Linked DNA regions of Homo sapiens: region 2 is linked to region 1. Evidence: fine-mapped expression QTL. A gene starts in region 1. The other region holds a variant in brackets. All regions are shown on one strand. Distances are between the middles of the regions. Region 1 holds the start of STON2 (stonin 2). Region 2 has its middle 23 kb from the start of STON2.

The links. PIP is the estimated chance that this variant, and not a neighbour inherited with it, causes the effect.
Region 2: its variant is the best candidate, but not a certain one, in a credible set for the expression of STON2 in visceral fat (GTEx, PIP 0.59).

What each region holds. Positions count from the first base shown.
Region 1 is chr14:81,397,633-81,403,016 of GRCh38, reverse strand. STON2 (stonin 2) reads left to right here and starts at 2,693. Exons shown (of 8, transcript NM_001394390.1): 1 at 2,693-2,738; 2 at 4,437-4,722. The coding sequence starts at 4,635.
Region 2 is chr14:81,420,265-81,425,648 of GRCh38, reverse strand. It overlaps a transcript of STON2 not described here. Among named protein-coding and RNA genes, the nearest start is that of STON2, 23 kb to the right of the region's middle. The variant A/G (reference allele first, on the strand shown) is at 2,194.

The sequences.
Region 1 (5,384 bases):
TTATTGAGCTGCTAACCTGTGCCAGGCACTATGCTCAATGCTGAGGGTATAGCATGCAACCCCTGCTCTCAGGAATCCTTTGTTCATTTCTCATACCTCATTTTATCCTGTGAGGAGACTTTGAGGAGCTGTAAGCAGAGCTGTAGCATAGCCATTTTCAGGTTTTAGGAAGATAACTCTACCATAATAGGCTGGATAGTAGGTTTGAGCAGGTGATACTGAAGGCAGGGAGACAGGTAGGAGACTTGCAACTGTCTGCGTGAGAGATCATGAGGGGCTGAGCCAAGGCATTGGCAGTGGGATTGGAGAGGGTAAGCTCCAGAGCTCAAACTCGTTCTGAAACTTAGAGCTCCTTTTCCAGGATGCTTGACACCCTCTTCAGATGAACAGAGTGTAACTCACTGTGGGCTAGACATACCATTCCTGCTCCCCCTTCCTGAGTGCCTGTGCCCCTCAGCTCTTTTGCTCAGACCCCTCCTTTCCGGCTTAGGGTACAGTTCAAGACCACCTATAGCTCAAGCTCTCAGAAGTCTCTTAACACTCTTACTTGCTGCTGTCCTACTTTTGGTGACTAACCACCAGAATAGGTTAGAGAGCAGAGGTTATTGTTTTAGGTTGCTGTGGTATCTCCCTGCAGTTGACAGCTGCTTGAGGGCAGAGATGCTGTTTTGTTCTCCCTTGACCCTCAGGCCCTAGAATGGGCAGAAACAGTACATGTTCCTGATGACTGTGCCCCCCAACTTTGTGAGACACACCGGAGGTACTGATGGCTGAAAAATTCCATCACCACGCTTCTGTCCAGCACTGTCTGAGGAAGGCTTATCTCCCTTAAGCACACTTCTTGAGTCACTCTCTGCTTTTAAACCTCCCACAGCTTCTCATTTCCCCTTGAACTCTCCTTAGCTTTTATGGTCAATCAATCCCTTCACTCCATATTCCCCCAGTAGATACCTCTGCTCTCATCAGACAGAGGCTTGTTCAGACAGAAACACACCTTGTTAAGGTCTGCTTCTGATTTTTACTGTCACTTGCGGTGATCCCCTGTCCAGAGGCTTCCCTCACTTGTCCCTCTGTTGGTCCAGAATCAAGGACATCCTTCACATCTCAGAAACCCACCCAGTCCCATATGGTTCCAACTCTCAGAGATCTCCCTACGGCTAAACTGTGGCAATTAGAGGACTGTCATAAGACAAAACTACTTCTATGACCCCCATCTTATCAGACAATTGCATTCTCCCTTCTACAAATTTTTGTATAATGCTGAGAAAGAAGTAGCTCTCTGAAATGGCAACTCCAAGACTTCAATGAAACTTTTAGCATCTGTTGGTCAATCCTCCTGCTGATACTGAGTCACCACTCATTTGTGGTGATTCTAAACCTCATTTTATGATTCACATTCTAAAAATGGGGTGAGGTTTTTACCAAGCAACTAATTCCAGTATGAACTTAACCTCACAATTATTGGGTTCTTCTGTGGGTTTCCAGCTGCTTAGCACAGCACTTTTCAAGGTCTGATTTCTTATGGCTTATTGGTGTGGCTCTTCCATGGCAAATACCTAAAATCCATTTTATGGATTTATGGTATGGAATATGATGGGGGGTTCCATGTGATCAATTTGTTCCACCAGTCTTCATTGGGACCACTCATTGTCTGTCACCAGCCCATGTCTGGTCTGGGACAAGTGAAGGAAGGATAGATAAAGTTTTGGGGCTCTTTTTTCGTTCATACGTTCTGAGGAATGGTCTTGGTACTTTGGCCAGAATGCACCTATATCTATAATGAAGAGGATTTAGAATCTGCCTTCTGGGCACTGTAGCTGAGCACATGACTCTACTTAGCATTTTGAACAATGACTGAAACCAGATTCTGCAAATGACAGAAATGCAGTGGTTTCATGAAATCTGCATTCCAGTCCCAAGACTTCTACGAACAAGTTACGCAACGTTGGGCGAGTCATTTAACAATAGCAGCAGTGCTGGCGATGGCTAACATTGGTTTGGAATGGAGCCTGGGGCACAGTAAGCCCTCTGTAAGGTCACCTGCTGTTTTCATTGTCATCGTTACAGAGGGTTTATTACATCCAGTCCTTAGTACTTGGCGTACATTATCTTGTTTAATCCTCGGAATTATGGAGTGAGTTTTATTATTCTTTCTGTACAAGGTTGAACTGAAGCTTAAAGAGGTTGAGTTATGAGTCCACGACTGTATAGGACTCCAAGACTGTATAGGACTCAAATCCGAACAACCTAACTCCTGGGCCTGTGATCACAATCTCTATTCGTGTGCCTGATTTCCTTGGGCCTCAGTTTTCTCATAACACCTGAAGTTGTTGATCTTTAAAACCTTTCAGTTTAAAATTTTTAAATATTTTCCTCTTACCTTCACCTTCGTCCCCTGTTCTCTTCCCTACCCCACTTATCCATGACTTTTGCTGGGTTCATCATTGCAGGATTGGCAGGATGTTTTCCCCATTGAGTGATGACACTGCATGTGTCAGCATAGGGACTTGTATTGTGGGTTTTTTTTTTTTTTTTTTTGACGGGTGCTGTGGGGCTGGTTTACATGCTGCTGTCGTTGAAAGAGGAGGAATCTGACTCTTCAATTTTACTGCCTTATCTTGGCCCGCAGCCATTACCACATTGAGTGACACACATTTGACAGGGCTTGAGAAAGTCGTCAAAGGCAGAAGCCAGTGGGAATCAGCTCTTTGTGCTTGTGGACCCTGCACTGCTCTCTGGTAAGATCTGGTTTGGGAGACCTGCTCTCTCCAGGCTGTTTGCCTATGTCTGGCCTTGTGGTTGGCAAGGATCCTAGGAGAGGGACTTGGAGAAGAGGCTTCTGGGCTTCCCATCCTTTATACAGCTTGGGGTGTGCTGGCAAACTTTCACATGGGGAGTTTCCCGGACATTTCATTACAGTTCCATTGTAATTGATATTTGTAAAGTACTTAAGTTGGGTGATAGTCTATATGTACTGTATTCTGTTGTACTTCTTTGCGGCTGTGACACCAGGGTTAGAGTGTTTTGGCTGCAGAAGACCTGGGCTCAAGGGTTGGATCTATCACTTAGTGTGGTGCTTCAAACACACCTGCTTGTTATGGCTTTTACTTGATTATTCTTTGGGTGAGATCTTATTATGAAGAAAAGTCAGCCACTGTGCTGAGATTTGTAAACTCTTCCACTTAGCCTGGAGGAAGCATTTTACCAAAAGGGCCTGGAAGCACTAAAAGTATTAGGTAAGTCACTTAATTTTTCTCAGCCCAAATTTCTTTATCCATAGAAGAATTAGAGTACTATGAGTCCTACTCATCAAAATGGCTACTGAATCAAGTGAAGTATGGTATGAAAATGTGTTTCTGAAAATTATAAATTCTATATAAACATTAGTTGTTTTTAGGAAGCATCATATGCCAAAACTGTTTTAAACACCAAAAAAGCAAAAGCTGTTCATGTTTTTACCGATTTTCCCACCTAGAGATTATTTACTGCAGATGATAACCTGTAGTAAAATTTCCTAAACTTTTCATTGTGCAGCAATTGGAAGACTGTGAGTTAAGTTGTTCTAGAAACTATCTGAATATTGTGTATATTTAGTTAATAAGAACTGATATTGTTCAAGGTATATAGTAGCTCTTCTATGGAAGCACATTAATTTTAGATAAATTCAGATTTTATTAATTCATTATAAATCATTATTAGATCAAGAGCTAGGTTCAGGTTGTAAAAAGATATTAATACCATGAACAAAATTATGTCAATTAAGAATCTTTCTGTATTCCTAGAACATAATTGCAGTGTGAGCAAAGGCTAGACCATTGTAACTAATTTAAATAGGCCTAGATTGAAAATGTTACTCTAACTCACATTTTTCACTACCACAGATGTTCCCTATCCTCTTACTCCAAATGAACAAGATCACTTCATTTCTATTTTTCTTGATTGATAAACCATGCTTGGAGATACCATCTGGAGATTGTTGGGTTTCTGCCAGAGATTTAAATCAGGTTTATAAAGAGTTACCTGCCTAAGGCAAGAAACTGGACTAATTTAATAGAAAAGAACATGCTTTTATTTTGCCAGCTAGTAAGAGAAAGTGAAAGCATTTTGAAAAGTTTTAATATTTGTTTAGCAATGATAGTATTATAGATGACAATATTTCTAAAATACAATAATTAGGGAAATTAGAGAATCTAATTGCTGAAATTTGTGTAATTATTTGCAAGTGTGATATGAAGGCTTATCTAGAAACCTTGATGCTAAAGACAGACATTTCAGTATAAAAGGTGAGGGCATGACAGGAACAGAGTGAAGTAAGGCAAGTTGGAAACCACCCCAAGCCTTCTTGTGGGCAGCGCTAAAAGCCCTAGACCTATGTGGATTCAGTGTAATGTGATGGTTATCCTTTTTAATTTTTTGTTTGTTTGTTTGTTAAACAGATTTCTGCCTGGCAGATTAACCAACGGCAAGAGAGGCTGATCTGTCTACATTCTGAGTACTGCCCTTGGCAAGACACCTAGAACAGACCCTGGACCCAAGTCTACCGTACTACCATACCCCTACTCCAGCCCACCCCAGACAGTATTCTGGGGTTCACCTGAGGTCAGCAGTGTGAAGATGACCAGTGCCTTTTTAGCATGACGACTTTGGACCATGTGATTGCCACCCACCAGTCAGAATGGGTCTCCTTCAATGAAGAGCCACCCTTTCCTGCCCACTCGCAGGGTAAGGAGTGCCTTCGTTTCCTAAAGTGAAGAGATTGTCAAAGAACCATGTCTATTTGTTATGGCTTCTACTTGATTATTCTTTGGGTGGGATCTTAATATAGAAAAAAGGGTCAGTTTCTCACTTTCTTTCTTGAGATCTTAGAATCCTAAGTGGAAGAATTTACACACTGAAAAAGCATCTTGGGAACCTTAGGGCCCTAAAAAGAGGCTTGGAAACACCAAAGGTAGTGGCTCTTTTCTCCCAAGAAACAAAAACTTAATATTTACCAAATACTTTACTCTCAGCCTTTTTAAAATGTAGTTATTAAAAGTAGTTGTTAAAAGTGACAGGCTCTGGAGCCAGAGTGCTTGGGTTCAAATCCCTGTTGCACCAGGGATGAGTGATATGCTTTTGGGTAGATTATTTATTTAACCTCTCCATGCATAGCTTCATTATCTGTACAGTAGGGATAATCAGTACCTATCTCACAGGTTGCTGTGAGGCTTAAGTGAATTCATACATAAAAGTGCTTAGAGCAGTGCCTGGCACGTGGAAAGAGCTCAGTACGGTCATCCTTGATCATAAGGAGGATGACTATATTGACTTTGGAGAACTTGTGCTCAGGGATGAAGGTCAAGGTAGGATCCAGGAGATATTTGCAGAGACATGTGAGTTGGTTC
Region 2 (5,384 bases), 23 kb before region 1:
GCCACCATGAGCCAGGTAAGAAGGTTCTCTCACTCTTCCCTAAGATACTAACCAATCTTCCCTACTTTTTTTTTTTTGATGGCAGAGTTCACTCTGTCGTCCAGGCTGGAGTACAGTGGCATGATCTTGGCTCACTGCAATCTCTGCCTCCTGAATTCAAGTGATTCTCCTGCCTAAGCCTCCCAAGTAGCTGGGATTACAGGTGTGAGCCACCGTGCCCAGCTAATTTTGTGTTGGTAGTGGAGATGGAGTTTCACTTTGTTGGCTAAGCTGGTCTCGAACTCCTGACCTCAAATGATCCTCCCTCCTCCTCAGCCTCTTAAAGTGGTGGGATTCCAGGCATGAGCCACCAAGCTCAGTCTTCTCTACTATTTTAAATCCAAGTTTTACACTTGGTTGGAAAATTCCTCTAATCCATTTTATTTCACTTAGCAAATAATAATATTCTGAATCTGTTTCTAAAAAACTCTCACTCTCAAAGCTAAATAAGAACCCAGAGATGTGGAGAATCACATTCTGAAGTCTTGTCACTCCATTCTCTAATTATTATGTCTGCTGTATTTGCATTTATGGTTTATATGCTTTGAATTTGTAGCTTTTCTGTTTTGCAAGAGTTACTGTCAGTGAGACATCTACCAAAAGAAATACTGCTATTAGTGGTGTCAGGACCAAATGTATGTAACAGTGTGGTGTGTTTCTAAATCCCTACTGTGGTTTTTGAGAAACTGTCTCTAAATGGGAGAGGGTGATGTGAAGACTGAAAGAAAAAATCTTTAGAAACAACAAAGCAGAAACATTAATAGGAAAGAGCTTCCAGTGATTAAATTTTTCTTTTGGTCTTTCAGATTGAGAAAGTAAGGAGAATAGGCATACATGGTGGGAAATTTCTATCAACTTGGAAAAAACAATAGAATACATAATTCTTAGCCACTGAGATGAGAGCCCAGGAAGTCACAAGGTCAAAGGATCCTGTCCCATTGTCTGTGGTGACAGCCTGTCCTCCCACTATAAGGAATGCCTTACCCTTAAACAATGGAAGTGTCCCTGAGAAGTTGAAGAAATGCATGCTGATGGAATTTTAAAAATCATATCATTGTAGAAGTACTCCAGTGATTATACTTTTCTGTATTTTCCATTTTTTTTTTTTTTAGTGAGAGTGTATTCTGTTTATAATAAAAACAGAAATCAGAAAAATATTTTTTTTTGATATGGTGTCTTGCTTTGTCATCCAGGCTGGAGTACAGTGGCGCGATCTTGGCTCACTGCAACCTCAGCTTCCCGTGTTCAAGCGATTCTCTTGCCTCAGCCTCCCAAGTAGCTGGGGTTTTAGGTGTGCGCCACCACTCCCAGCTAATTTTTATCTTTTTAGTAGAGATGGGGTTTCACCATGTTGGCCAGGCTGGTCTCAAACTCCTGACATCAAGTGATCTGCCTGCCTTGGCCTCCCAAAGTGCTGGGATTATAGGCATGAGCCACCGTGCCTGATTAGGAAAAATAAAAGAAGGAAATAAACTAGGAGTGTGGGGATGAGTGAGTTGTCACCATTGAAAGGTGCTCATTTGCTCACATTTTATACTGTGAGAATTCTTTTGTCCTGCAAGCTGTGGCATTTCATAACATACCTGCTCTCCACATTTAGAATTTACTTTAAACATAGGGGATGTCAGTAGTGCATTTCATGTATCAAAACCTCAGACTCCACTCTACCAAAGCAGCCAGGCCTCAGTCAACAGACATCGACTCTCGCACTGTGCCAAGCCCACCCAGTGTGTCCTGGTTCCTTGTGGCTGTCCCTGGCAGTTGGAGACACCCACATGCCCCAGCCTTCAGTCAGCAGACACAAACTTGGGATGCGTCGGTTTCTTGTTTGTGAGAGGCCTGGTTCACAAGGATAACATCATGATCAGCCAGGGGCCCCTGTGCAGCTGCCCCATGAGGCCACTGCAGCAGCCTGTGTTTTAGCCTTTGGCCAGGCTGTTTTGGTTTTATGCCCATGCGTCTGTTTTGTTGGGGGAAGAGGGAGGGGAAGGATTCTCAGAAAAGGGAAGGACGTATCCTCCGCTTTGCTGAAAACGGAAATAAGGAATTATCAGTTCAGGGTCAGTAGAAGCCACAGTGCCTGGCTTCCTTCTGCTGGGCTCCTCTGGAATAATTTTGTTTTGTTTTGAAAGGCCCGAAAGCAACTTGAGCCAG[A/G]TAAGTTGTTCTAGGGTGACAGTTTTTAACAGGGAGTCCACAGATCCCTAGGACTTTGAGAAGTGTGTCTGTGAAGTGCCTTAAATTATAATTAATGTTGCATGTATGTGTATTTTTCCAGAGATGAGAGTCTCTGGCTTAAATTATAACTCAAAGAGATTCAGAGAGCTATAATTTTTTGTTTAAAGGCTAAGAACCAGTTTCAAGGAGAGGCCTTCAAGTCTGAGTTGTACATCTTGGTCTTGGCCCTAACTTGAGAACTCTTCCTGGTTGGTGACTTGTGTACGTAGTGATAACATCAAGAAAAGTGTGCAGCGCACCTTAGGTATACCTATAGAAGGTCATGTTGCAGGAAGATGAAGATAGTTTCACTTTTTCAAGTGCTGGAAAGCTGGAAATCTAGAAATCTTTTTTTTTTTTTGAGACAGAGTCTTGCCCTGTCTCCCAGGCTGGAGTGCGGTGGTGCCATCTTGGCTCACTGCAACCTCCGCCTCCAGGGTTCAAGCGATTTTCCTACCTCAGCCTCTTGAGTAGCTGGGATTACAGGTGCATACCTCCACACCCAGCTAATTTTTTTTGTATCTTTAGTAGAGACGGGGTTTCACCATGTTGGCCAGGCTAGTCTTGAACTCCTGACCTCGTGATCTGCCCGCCTCAGCCTCCCAAAGTGCTGCGATTACAGGCGTGAGCCACCGTGCCTGGCCTGGAAGTCTAGAAATACTAGGTGGACCCACAGAAACCCGTGCACTTACTGAAGCCCATGCTGCAGAAAGATGGTTTCACTTCTTCAAATGCTGGAAAACTGGGCATCCAGAAATCTGTGACCTCTGTCCTAATGCCTCCTATTCTCTCCTTTCTCAAGCACACTCAGAGCTCCCTTAATATTCTGTATTATCATAGTATTGACTAGTTGGAATGAACACAAATATCTCTTTTACCTGGTGTCTCAGTGTGTTTGTGTTGCTGTTAAGGAACACCCAAGACTGGGTAATTTATAAAGAAAAGAGGTTTATTTGGCTCATAGTTCTGCGGGTTGTACAAGAAGCATGGCGCCAACATCTGCTTCTGGTGAGGGCTTCAGGTTGGTTCCACTCAGGATGGAAGGTAAAGGGGACCCAGGTGTGCAGAGATCACATAGCAAGACAGCAGAAACAAGAGAAAAAGGAGGAGGTGCCAGGCTCTTTTCAACTTCAGTTCTCGCAGGAACTGAGTGAGAACTCACTCACTCCTGTGAGAATGGTACCAAGCCATTCATAGGGATCTGGCCTCACCATCCAAACACCTCTTACTGAGCCCCACCACCAACACTGGGGATCAAACTACAACAGGAGACTTGGCAGGGCCAAACAAAGCATGTCCAAATCATAGCACCTGATCTTCTGCTGAGTTCTAAGATAATCCAGGCCCTCATGATGGTGACAAGATAACACATTTATGAGGAACTTCTTCCAAGTGGCTGTTTATCCTGTGCTAAACACAAATGACCTTCCCCAGGGTTCCAGCCTTGGTTCTTGTTTTTCCTCTTATTATTCTGAGTTACCCAGTCCAAATCCCCAGCTTCCAGTGGCCTCTCAGTCTGTGTTTTTAGCACTCATCTCTCTTCTTCTGAGCTCTAAATCTGCCTATTTAACAGGTCCTAAAGACAACATCTCAATGTGGTTGTCCCACGGGCCCATCAAATCACTGGGCCTAATGCTAAGCTCATCACCTCCCTTTTATGTCCCAACCATTCTTCCTCTTGAAGTCCTTATCTTGGCAAATGGTACAAAAATTGATCCAGTTTTCCAAAGGTTTTTTTCATCCACCTACTGCATCTTTACTTCCACAATCTCAATGAGTCCAAAAAAGATTCTATCCCCATATCTTGATAACATTACATCCTAAATGGCTGTAAAAACACCTTTCCTCTCTATCCCCCATCTTGCGATGCCTAATCACTCTAATTACTAGCTGGTCTTTTCACTCTCTGGTTGATCTCTCTCATTGCTTCCAGAATAACCTTTTTCTAAAAAACAAATTGGGTCATGTTATTTCCCTGCTTAAATTGTTTAATCGATCTCCATTGCCTTTATGACAAAACCCAGCCTTCTTGGCATGGCCTACTGGGCCCTGTCTGACCTGACTCCTAGCTCTCCAGCCTCCTGTCTTACTTTTCTCCTTCTGGCTCATTGCTTCGTCAAAGTAAATCACCTATAGTTCAGAAAACATATCTTTTTATTCATCTTCTGGACTCAGTAGGGGCATAATACATTTTTAATGCAGCTGTTTTGAGTGGAGGCCTTGAAAAAACTATTGCTCTTCACATTCCAAGTCGGGTAACAAAAAGACATCCTCATACCGTCTCAGTGCTTCATCCCATCCCTGCCCCCTGACCTATTTCTAACATTAATGCTGAATCTCAGGCCATCCTTGAACATGAACCTCATTTCTGAGCCTCTCGTCCTCCCTTCACATCATGCCTTATTCATGTCCAGATCCCACCCTGTCTGTGACACACACTGCAGGGGTTGGGGTCAGTGATGGGTGATGTTCAGGTGTGAGGTTAGGGAGGGGCAGGTTTGGGGGTGGACGTAGGAATCAGGGAGGTTGCATACACCCTTTGATAGCAAACAACAGTTTTGCATGTTAACGTGAGTGGTTAAGCATGGCTGAGTGCAATGGTACCCTCTTATTGACCATTTTGTATTGTCATGCTTTGTTCTTATAGATACCATCCTGCCAGCTTGGAATGTCCATTTTCTCCACCAGTGACCCCTGCCTCACAGAACTAATTTCTATTCATCTTTCAACCACTTGTTACCTTCCCTGTTATTCTTCACTGACCCCAAATTGGGCTAGGTGTCACTCCTATGCACCCATCGCACTGCTACATTCTCCTCATTGCCCTGGTCACACCATACTGTGATTATTTATTTGCCTGTCTCTCTCTCCAAGGCAGGTGCTGGATCTTAGTCCTCTCTCTGTTCTTAGAATTTCACAAGAACATCCCTAGCAATAGGAGATGCTGAATGCTTATTGAATGAATGAATGAATGAATGGGCGATGTTCTGTGACAGACTTCTAAAAACCTGCAGATGCTCCATGAGCATAAATAACCCAGAGTCCAATAAGACCTATTAGATCATCTCTTTATATTCTACGCATGTGACATTGCATACCAGCATTGATTCTTATCCAGATTTTAACTTTCC